Linked DNA regions of Homo sapiens: region 1 is linked to region 2. The links come from fine-mapping of genetic effects on gene expression. A gene starts in region 2. The other region holds a variant in brackets. All regions are shown on one strand. Distances are from middle to middle.

What was found. PIP is the estimated chance that this variant, and not a neighbour inherited with it, causes the effect.
Region 1: its variant is the best candidate, but not a certain one, in a credible set for the expression of DTX4 in subcutaneous fat (GTEx, PIP 0.78).

Annotation. Positions count from the first base shown.
Region 1 is chr11:59,202,013-59,207,386 of GRCh38, reverse strand. DTX4 (deltex E3 ubiquitin ligase 4) reads right to left here. Exons shown (of 9, transcript NM_015177.2): 9 at 1-2,711. The coding sequence ends at 2,478. Among named protein-coding and RNA genes, the nearest start is that of MPEG1, 8.2 kb to the left of the region's middle. The variant A/G (reference allele first, on the strand shown) is at 2,359.
Region 2 is chr11:59,168,884-59,174,257 of GRCh38, reverse strand. DTX4 (deltex E3 ubiquitin ligase 4) reads right to left here and starts at 2,126. Exons shown (of 9, transcript NM_015177.2): 1 at 1,452-2,126. The coding sequence starts at 1,662. LOC124902601 (basic proline-rich protein-like) reads left to right here and starts at 813. Exons shown (of 2, transcript XM_047427951.1): 1 at 813-993; 2 at 1,528-4,183. The coding sequence starts at 813. The coding sequence ends at 2,336. It overlaps LOC124902675 (a long non-coding RNA gene), which reads left to right. Exons shown (of 4, transcript XR_007062682.1): 4 at 1-559. RefSeq lists enhancers at 1,060-1,169, 612-1,440, 2,068-2,362, 2,449-2,989 and silencers at 1,510-1,559, 1,620-2,189.

The DNA of each region.
Region 1 (5,374 bases), 33 kb before region 2:
AGCCCAGGGGAAAAGGCTTGAAGGTATGAAGTCGACCTCTCCAAGTGGTATTGCCACAGGCACAGCGGCTCCCTTTCCATCTTGAGTCTTCTTCCTTCTGCTCCTGGCCACCCCCTTCCCCACCTATACCTTCTTCTCCCTGATGTGGGGAAACTGATCTCTCCCCAGTGCCTAATTCCATTTTGAAAGTCTGTCTTCTTTTCTTCCCCACCTCCTACTGCCTCATTGTGTCTTTCTTCCCATGGACCCTCAGCCTATTTCTGCATCCTTGCGGCCAAGAAGCTCAGCAGATACTTGACCAGTGTGCGAAGGTAGAGACGGCATGAGGCTCTCCAAGTAATCTCTGTACATGGTAACCTGACAAAGGGCATGGGTGTGATATTAAACACCGCAGGGATGTCTCTTCCATTTAGTTCAGGTGTTTCCTTCCTAACTATGGCAGGAAATTGCCCTGTGGTGCAGTAACCTTGGGACCAGTCTCCTGGTCTGCTGGTGAGATACAATGGCTGCCTGCCGACAGGAGACACAGGGACAAGGATGGCAGAGCAATTCCTCCCATCAGAGCTCCCTCTGGTGGAGCTGATCAACATCCCTGTAACCATTTGGAAAGAGAGCAAAGGCTCAGCACCAGCACATCCACAGAACTGGGTGACAGGCAGGTGAATCGACTGACAGGCAGGTGAATCGACTATCCACCCCAATGTCAAAATGGCTGGAGGCCTAACAGCAAGCAGCTATGGGGCTGGCTTTATGAAAGATTGGCCTCCAGTTCCCATCTAAGTACCATTTTTGAAGGTTCTCTTGTTTCCATTTTTCTAGCATCAAAAACCTTCCAAATATTATGAAATATATATGCATATATATATATATATATATACGTCAAACCCCCAAAACATGAGGTATATAAATTCAAATTAGTATCCAGAGGAACTTCCCCCAAACACATAGTTCAAAGAACCCACTTTCAAAGGGGGAATTGGGTTTCCCTTCTTGATCCCCCCTGTTCTCCTCCCTGGCCCCCAATTCGTTCCTTACTGGGAGCCAAAGGCAATAAGAATGTTGGGGAGGAGATAGGGTCTTGGGACACAACAAGATGCAGATTGGACCAGACCATATTGTGATCCCAACTCCATTAGGAATGAGCTAAAGAGATTCTCTCCCTGCTGTAAGTCAATCTATAATAGATGAGGGAGATGAGGGACCCAGCAGCTCTGGGCTCTGATTAGCAAATTTGCATGGAAACAGATTGAAGCCTTCATAGAAACAAGACTGGATGGAGATGAGCTCTGATCCAATCTTGAAAAGAAATATAAAAGGATGAGTTCAGCCCTCACCTCATTGCATCTCCCCAGGCACAGTTCTGTCTTCATTGGGGTTTCAGTTCACTACGGGATAGGTTGGCAACAGGTGAGGAACGTCAAAGGACCACAGCCTGGCTGTTGGAGCCCCATCAGAACTGGGGTTTGGCATCTTGCAAAACAGAGTGCAGGGACATGACGGGCCTTCCCTTCAAGCTGGCCCAGCAATGCACACACGCCCACACACACACGCGCATGCACAGACACAGAGGGCACAGAGCCCAGCATGGGCTCCACTCACAGTGACTCGATGAAACTCATGGAATCTTTGAGCTGGTCTAGAATGAGTTGGGAAGAAGGCTGTGGGCTCCTCTCCCTGAGGACAGTTCAGATGCTCAGTGGGATGCAGGCTCTGGTTTGATCAGAGAGGGTCTAGAAACAGCATCATGGGATGCCACTCCAAAGAGGAACCCCAGAGTCCATCCATCCACATGAGAGAACCAGATGCCTCTTTGGACAGGTGAGAGCTGTGAGGAGGAGAGGAGGGCCCAGAGAAGCCAAGGACTGTGATGACAGCAGAATGTGCTCCCAGAGGCTTTTCCTTCTCCGACCCTCTTGGGAAGAAGTGCTTCCTTGCTCTACACCAAGGCATCAGTTTCTGATGTCACAGCAGTTTAGTGATTCACCCCTTTGCCCACCCCCCAACCTTGCACAGTGAGAGCTCCCTGCCTCCAGCAGAGGGAGAATAGCAGAAACTCCAGTCTCAAAGCAGAGTGGAAGTAGCAAGAAGCCGGCTGAGGCAAGAAACCCCGGCTTCCCAAAGCCAGGATATGGAGTGCCTAAGCACTGCCCATACCCTAGGTGTGCTGACCATGCCCCTACTTGGGAGGTGGGGTAGGGAGGGGATTCCTGCCTACCCAGCACCAAAAACTCCATGGGAACAGACCCAGGATGGCCCTCATCCCATCTCCCTTTGTGTTGGATGAGATTTATGAATGATGTCGCTATATTCAGTCTGGCTCCCACTGTGGTTGGGAGGGATGAGGGATGGACACAGGGC[A/G]GGAGGGGAGGATAGAAAGTTGGGAGGGCAGGACACCAACTTCTTCTACATTGACTCACTCTCCTCACTTCCTGTCCTGCAGTCTCCATGGCCCCTCCCACCTCAAAGCTTTTCTGGCCTCAGTCCTTCTCCTGGGCAGTGCTGTCCTCAGAGATGCCCTGGGCAGCCAGTTCAGCCAGCACATTATCCAGGTAATTGGCATCTGGGTAGCCATGGCCAGTGAGATTAGAGCCAAACTCTGTCTTGTGGTGGACCTCATTCCAGATGACGGTGTCTGACTCGCCTGTGGTGCTGGAGGTGCCAATGGCAAAAATGAGGCGGCGATCCCAGGCCACGAGCAGCAGCTTCAGAACCTAGAGGGATAAAAGTGGGACATGAAAGGCAGACATTAATTGGCAGTCAAAGACTATCCCTTGGACGGTAGAGAATCCTCCCAAGGGCCCCATCCCTTCCTGCATCATGATACCCTAAGCAGCCCAGGGGAAAGAAAGAGATTTGGACTTGGAGTTTGGGAGCTACAGGCTGAGTCCTGGCTCTGTCACTGAATAACTGTGTGACCTTGGAGAAGTTATAGCACCTCTCTGAACATTAATTTTTTTATGAAATGGCAATGGTACAATCTGCCTCTAAACGTTGTGAACATCTTACTGGACACTCCATGAAAAGTATTTTCACACCAGTGCCTACAACGCACTAATTGATAAATGTTATCTGCCAACATAACGGCTGCATTTTGAAAGACAGGATCTAGGAGTTGAAGGCGCTTATGATCTGAGAACTTCTGAAGTTCTGCCCTTCATTACTGCCACCACTACCTCAATGTAGTATTAATTTATCCAAAGCTGAAGCTGTGCACTATTTTTCTAGTGACATCTTGGAGCACTCTGACTTTCTCGAGGTGAGAAAACTGAGGCTCAAAGAAAGTTTTGGGGCTTGCAGAATGTTCTAAATCAGTTAAATTAAAAAAAAAATGTTTGTTGAGCAAGACTAGTGGCTAATGCCCTGTTCCAGGCCTTGGTCAGAGTAGTGTCCAGCATGAAGAAAAAGCATCCAGTGAAAATGTCTTGGGTTGAAAACTGAACTACTGTAAACATGGTATGGGCTGGAGGAGAGGAAACCATAATAGTATTAGTAATGAAAGCAGACATTAGAAATATGAGCTGCTATTTCCTGAGTGTTTACTTTCTCAGTGTTGGGCATTGGGACATATAATCGTTACAGTAATCAGATGATATAGGTATGCCCATGTGCCACACATAGTGACATTTTGGTCAATGACTGAACACATATGCAATGGTGATCTCACAAGATTACAATAGAGCTGAGAAATTCCTATTGCCCTGTACTTACTATACTGTACTTTTAATCATTATTGTAGAGTGCACTCCTACTTATTTACGAAAAGAAAAGTTAACTGTAAAACAGCCTCAGGCAGTTTCTTCAGAAGGTATTCCAGAAGAAGGCATTGTTATCATAAGAGATGACAGTTCCACTCCTGTTATTGTCCCCAGGGCCTTCCAGCAGGATAAGATATGGATGTGGAAGACAGTGATGCTGATGATTCTGCCCTTAGTAGGTCAAGGCTAAGGTATATGTTCGTGTGTTCATTTTAAACAAAAAGTTTCAGAAGTAAAAAAAAAAAAAGTTTTTAAAAATAAACAAGCTTATAGAATAAGGATTAAAGAAAATATTTTTCTACAGCTGTACAATGTGTTTGTGTTTTAAGCTGTGTTGTTACAAACAGGTGAAAAGTGAAAAAAGTTAAAAGGTTTTTAAATGGAGAAGTCACAATAAGCTAAGGTTAGTTTATGATTGAAGAAAGAAAAGTAGTTTTAATAAATTTAGTGTAGTTTAAGTGTACAGTGTTTATAAAGTCTTTAGTAGTGCACAGCAATGTCCTAGGCCTTCACATTCACTCACAGATTCACCCAAAACTACTTCCAGTCCTGCAAGTACCATTCGTGGTAAGTGCCTTATACAGATATACCACTTTTATCTTTTATACTGTATTTTTACTGTACCTCTTCAATGTTTAGATTCACAAATACTTACCATTATACAACTACTTATAGTATTCAATAAAATAACATGGTGTACAGGTTTGTAGCCTAGAAGCAATAGGCTATACCATATTGCCTAGCTGTGTAATAGGCTATTCCATCTAGTTTTGTGTAAGTACACTCTGCGATGTTTGTATGATGATGAAGCTGTCTAATAATAATGATATCCCTGTCATTAAATGACAGAAAACTGGACTCTCATCATCCCTCTCAAGGAAACAGAGGCTCAAAAGGTAAAAGACTTGCCTTGGTCTTATAGCTAGTAAGTGGCTAGGGGCGGTGGGGTTAAGGGATTGATTTCAGGACTGCCTGACTCCATAGCCCATGGTCTGAATCACCACTCTGTTGACTCTCAGATGGGAATCAGTCTAGAATTCATGGAGGTTGCTTCTGAGCTGAGTAGTAAAGGAAGGGAAGGATTTGGGGGCATATCAATAGAGAAGGATGTATAGACATAGTAAACAAATATAAACCCAAGGCATGGATAAATTACAATTGCTGTCACTATGCTGTGCATTTTACAAATGATATTTTCATTTAATTTTTCCAACATCCTGTCCATACAGATGCAAATCATCACCACTATTTTACAGATTAGGAAACTGAGACTTCAAGACATGAAGCCAACCAGTTCCCACAGCTAGTAAATGGCAGAAATGGGACTTGAACCCAGGCTGGTCTGGCTTCAAAGCCCATCCTCTAATTATACTTCAATCTACAAGGAAGCCCAAGGTTAGGGTCCTGGAACAGCAAATGTGAAGGATAAGGATGAGAAATTGGTGTGAGGAGAAGGTTTAACTCACACTGTAGTAGGTCTTATATGTCAAGCTGAGAAGAGTGCACTTTGTTGTTTCTTCATTTTATTTCTTTTACACACAAAAAGCTTGATTCTAGAAACTGTTTGAAACTAACCTGGTAGCAGGTAAAAGATGAAGTCTTATCTATGTTGGCAGTGG
Region 2 (5,374 bases):
CTCCCTCAGCTCCACACACGGTTGAAGCCCCTCCAGATTCTAACACTTCCAGAATCCTCTCCCCAGAAAGCTCTCCTCAATCAGCCAGTGTCTGCAGAGTCCTTGGCAAAGGGGTTGCTGGGAGTTATGACTAAAGATGGGGACATGAGGGTGGAAAGATACCCCTTTCCCATGACAATCCTAATTAGCACACAGGATGTGGGGGCTTTCCAAGGAAGCAGAGAGACTCTGCTCAAACAGCTGTTCACTGGGGAGGGCCTTTCCGAGTCATCTTCTCTACGTCCTCCCCAGCACACCGGCCTCTCCAGGCTCCTCGGTTGCACTCTTGGGAAAGCCGAGCCAGAATTCCAGAAACAATGGCCCCCTCCCCACCTGTCACTGACGGAGGCAGAAACTCTTCCCGGGTCATCGATTAAGCAAGGACCGAGCAAAGAGAGGCAGTTTTGCTCTCCCTTGGGCAGCACCCCCACTCCCCACCCCCCAAGGCCCCATCCTGGAGGCTCCCTTCCTGGCTCTGACCTGGAAAGGCAGGTCAGCTGGGAAGCGGGTTTGTGCTGGCTACAGTGACAACTTGATTCTCATGAAAAGATAGGAGTTTGGCGCTCCAGGAGACCATGGGTTCCTTACAGGCTATGGTTTCAAGAGGAAGCCTGGGGACAGTTTCTCCTTAGGAATCTGCGTCCTCCTCCTCCGCAGACAAAGGGAGCGGCTTCCCTGCCATGCATTCCGAAGCCCCGAGCCTCCCCCTCCTCTCTCCATCTGCTCCGGCCTGTTGCTTCCGCGCATGTAGTGTGTAGCAGAGGCATTCGCCAATGCCGCGGCGTCCAGGGTACCCCAGCCCTAGTCTCTCCTCCCAGGGAGCCCGGCGCTTCCCTTACCCGACTGTAGCGAGAACCTCCGGGGAATCCCTTCTTCCTCCCCCAGTTCCCACACCCAGGACCCAGCTGCGGGGAGGCATCCCACACAGGAGACGCAGAGGCAGTGAGATCGGGGGTGAGGGGACGTGTGGCAAGCCCCAGCGTGCCTGAAGCAAAACAGGGTCAGGTCAGCCAAGGTGCCGGCCGCCACGGGATGAGGGCAGGAAGCCTTTGCGAAGGGCTGGGATTGCCTGTAGTCTGGGGCGGCCCTAGAATTTCTACATAGAAAGACTTAGGGCCACCAACTGCTGAAAAGCGGGGGCATGAAAGGGGTGGGGAGTGGATTGTTACCGACTAGGTTGAAGCTGGGTTTGCAAAACCACAACACTGATACTATTTGCATGGATGTTTAAGGGGGAGGGAGGATCCTGCGAGGATTCAGCGGAGTGAATCGCCTCCCACCACCACCTCTTGGTGACACTGCTGCACAGAAGTGCCGACTAGGTGGCCAAGGTGGGTTCACAGGGAGGGAGGTACCTTGGCAGGTTGGGAAGGTGGGAGCAGGCGGGGCGGGGTCAGGGGCGGCTGGCTCACCCGTGTCTTGGCGGAACTGGTTCATGGACTGCAGGTCGATGATGTAGGGCGCGAGACGGCTGTCCACCTGGCCCAGCACCACGCTGCCCCCCGCGCGGGGGCCGGCGCGGACCACCGCCTCGATGTGGTGGCTCACCGCTGGGCTGTAGGGACGCCAGCGGCCGTGCTCGTTCAGCCATTCCCAGACCACCACGGCCGAGGCCAGGAGCATGGCGAGCCCGGGGCTGCGGCGCTGCGCGGCCCGCCTCCCGGGCCCCGAGCGCCCGACCTCCTCCGCTTCCTCCTGCGCCGCCGCCTCCGGGCCTCGACCGCGCCCCCTGCCCCGCGCCCCGCCGCCCCGGGCAGCCTCAGCTCCGGCCCATGGGCTCCTCCCCAGCCGTGCATCCACCGGGGCCGGGACACCGGGGCCGCCTGGCTGGGACCGCGCGCCGCCGCCGCCGCCGGGGTCCGCTGCTGCTGCCGCTGCTCTGTGGGGTCGAGTCGCTTCATGCAAATGCCCGGCTCTCTGCAAACAGGCCCCCGCCTTGCAAAAGCCACTCGGCGGGCGCGCGGCCCGAGCCCCGGCGGCCGCGAGCTGGGGCTGACGGCGAGGCAAGGACCCAGCCCTCGCACCAGTTGCGCCTCGGCCTCTGCAGACGCCGGGGTGGGATCTCGCCGCACGGCCGCGCTCGGAATGGCACGCTCTGGTCCCCTCCCCTCTCTCCCTCCCTCCCCACCCCTTCGCCGCACGAATTGCAGTCCCCGCCGCTGGGAGAGCTCCCCCTGCCTGTGGCTCTGCTCAGTTCCTTCCAGAATGAACCACCCCTCCCAAGCAGGGCGCTAAGGCAAACCCGCGCCCGCGTGTGTTTCCCTGGTTCCTTGATGCAGAGAAGCGACCCGCCATGACACGGCCCCGGGACCACCACTGTCGCCCAGCCGCAACTTTGCAGCCTCCTTCCCCCAAATGTAATTTTCTCTCTCTCTCTCTTTTTTTTTCCTTAATGCAGCATGATCAGTGTCCGCAGCGCGAACTGGAGACACGCATTGTCTCGGGGCTTGCGCACGCACTGGCACACTCACAGTCGCACACACACGCGCGCGCACCCCAACTCCTTCCTTGCCCCGGCTCCTATTACCTCATCCTCTCCCGCATCCTTAGCTGTCCGTCAAGGAAGCAGAAGACACGCCCCCTGCTGCTCGGGCGAGTGCCCTGGAGCTTACCCGCCCCCTGCTGGCCTAAAGTGTCGTGTGCCGGCCAGTGGCCACTCCAACCTCTGCTAATGAGACCCAGTCCAAAGGGATGCAGCAATTTCGCTAATGATGGATTTATATTACCTACGTAGAGAGCAAATGTGGTTTTTCTGGCCAGATTCAACGTACTAGAGTCAGGAAGACGCATGTTAGATTAATTTTATCTGCATCGTTTCTGTAACTAAAATTATGAAACACTAGGAAAAACACGAGTTAGACTTATTTTGATCATCAATAGTTAATATGGAAAATAACCTTAAATAGGTAGGTTCTGACTAAAAGGGAAGACTGAAGTCAGGATTATGCATTATCCTTGTCAAAGAACACAAATTTTGTTTTGTTGAGATTGCAAACCACATAAAACAACGAATCGAGTCTTATCAAGATCCAAGTTATAGGATGCGGGAAAGTAAAAATAGATTATGTGTTAGAGAATGGGATTGTGAATCTTTTTGAAATAATCAATTTTTTCATAAATATCATATGACCCTTTTATGTTTTAGAAGAGTTGCTTCCCCCTCCCTCTCCTTGCAGCTGTCATTTCTCCCATTGTTAGAATTTTGCATCCTTCTACCTTTATCTTTCTCCCAACAGAGTTCTAAATACAAAGCAAAAGAAAAAGTGTGAGATCTGTTCTTCTTCAGGCCCCTAAAGGCACCAGGCTCAAGGAACCTCTGAGCTTTGTTCTTTCTGGTCTTCTTGCACAGCTTGGCCTCCAAAATGCCTAGTCGGCCTCTCCCTTATTTGGGGACTGTTCCTAATCCAACCTAAACAATACCACTCATTAAAATGTCGAGTTTCAGAATTAGAAGAACAAAAAGAAAACAAGGATACCTCGACTAATTATATCATAGGCCATTATTATTACCATTTTACAAATGACAGGACTTAAGGAATTTAAACTATTTGCCCTAGATTACATAGCTAGTTAGAGGGGAAACCAGTATTCAAAATTTAGTTGGGCTGTCTCAAAAGAAAATGCCTGTTCCATAGCATGTCCTATACAACACAGAGGTGGCACAATAACAGGCAATGTAGAAGTGTCTCAGTGTGAAAGAAGGGAAGGGAGAAAATGGGGGTAGAATTTTCTGGAAAAGAAACAGAAGGCAAACTGAAGAAAAAGTAATTTAAAAATTTATTGGGCTACTTTTATTTCTAGTCATAAAAATGGAAAGTATCAAAACTCAGGAAACTTTCTTATAGTCTTGGTAAGTATGAATCAAAAAGTGAAGAGTAATGATTCAAGGGGATATTGGAAGTACCAGCGAAAATATAGCACCTGACCAGCTAAGCCAGAAATTCCAAGGTGAAAAAAATCTAAACTAGATAAGCAGGCTACCAGCAAATGTTAGATGAGCTGTTTGAAAGGCGAATGGAAGGCAGAAGGAAACTGACGCCTACCTGCCTATGTCCAGCCTAGTTTTGTATCTGGTCTTCTTGTATCTTCCATGTTAAACACAACAGAGTATTACAGCAGAATAAAAATATCTTATGACATGTGAGAAGGTTTGTATGTAGTCTGATTCATTTGCAAGAGGAAGTGAATACACACACACACATACACACATATACACACAAATGAGAGGGGTCTTTAAAATTTTATGGAAAATGCATATTATGAAAAAACTAGGCTGGTAGTTCAAATTGTTTTTTTGCACCCAAATAAACTCATACTAACTTGTTATAACATGTCTGAACAGGATCTAGTTTGAGACACTAAGAAGGGTAAGACAATGCCCTTACTGAAGAGGATCAAGGATTAGCAGTCAAAACAATAGCCTACACCATAGATATGTCAACTGGTTCAGCTTACACAATTCTGACAAAGAAATTAAACTTTCCATTCCTTGATAGGTGCCAAAACCATTGCACCCAGGTTGGCCACAGACAAGAGCAGGCCTTTCAATAGAGATTTTAAATGGGTGGGATCAGGATCATGAAACATTTCTTTGAAGAATTGTAACAGGAGATGAAACATTACCAGTATAATCCTGATGACAAGGAACAACCAAAGCAATGGCTATCAAGAGGTAGAAGTGGTCCAGTCAAAGCAAAAGTGCACTGGTCAAAAGCAGAGACCATGGCAACAATTTTTTGGAGATGCTCAAGGCATTTTACTTACTGACTTTCTGGAGGGCCAGAGAACAATAACATCTGCCTAATATGAGAGTATTTTGCAAAAATTAGCAACAGCTTTAGGATAAAATACCTGGGAAAGCTTCACCAGAGTCGTTCTCCACCATGGCAATGTTCATGCTCATTCCTCTCATCAAACAAACGCACTTTTGTGAGCAATTTGATGGAAAATCTTTTAATCTGCTGTACAGTCCTGATTTGGCTCCTCTGACTTCTTTTTGTTTCCTAATCTTAAAAAATTTTTTAAAGAGCATCTGTTTTTCTATAGTAAAGTAAAACTGCATTGATATGGTTAGGGTCCCAGGACACTCAGTTCTTTAGTGATGGACTAAATGATTCATATCATCACCTACAAAATATCTTGAACTTGATGGTGCTTATGTTGAGAAATAAAGTGTACATTTTTTATTTTGTTTTTTAATTTTATTTTTCACAAACTTTTGGAAGTCCCCTCGTGTTTGTGTGTGTATGACTTGACATTAATAGTAAATTATAGATGTAAAATATTTGTATTTTAATAATCCATGATAATTTATAGTTTATCATGACCCAATTAG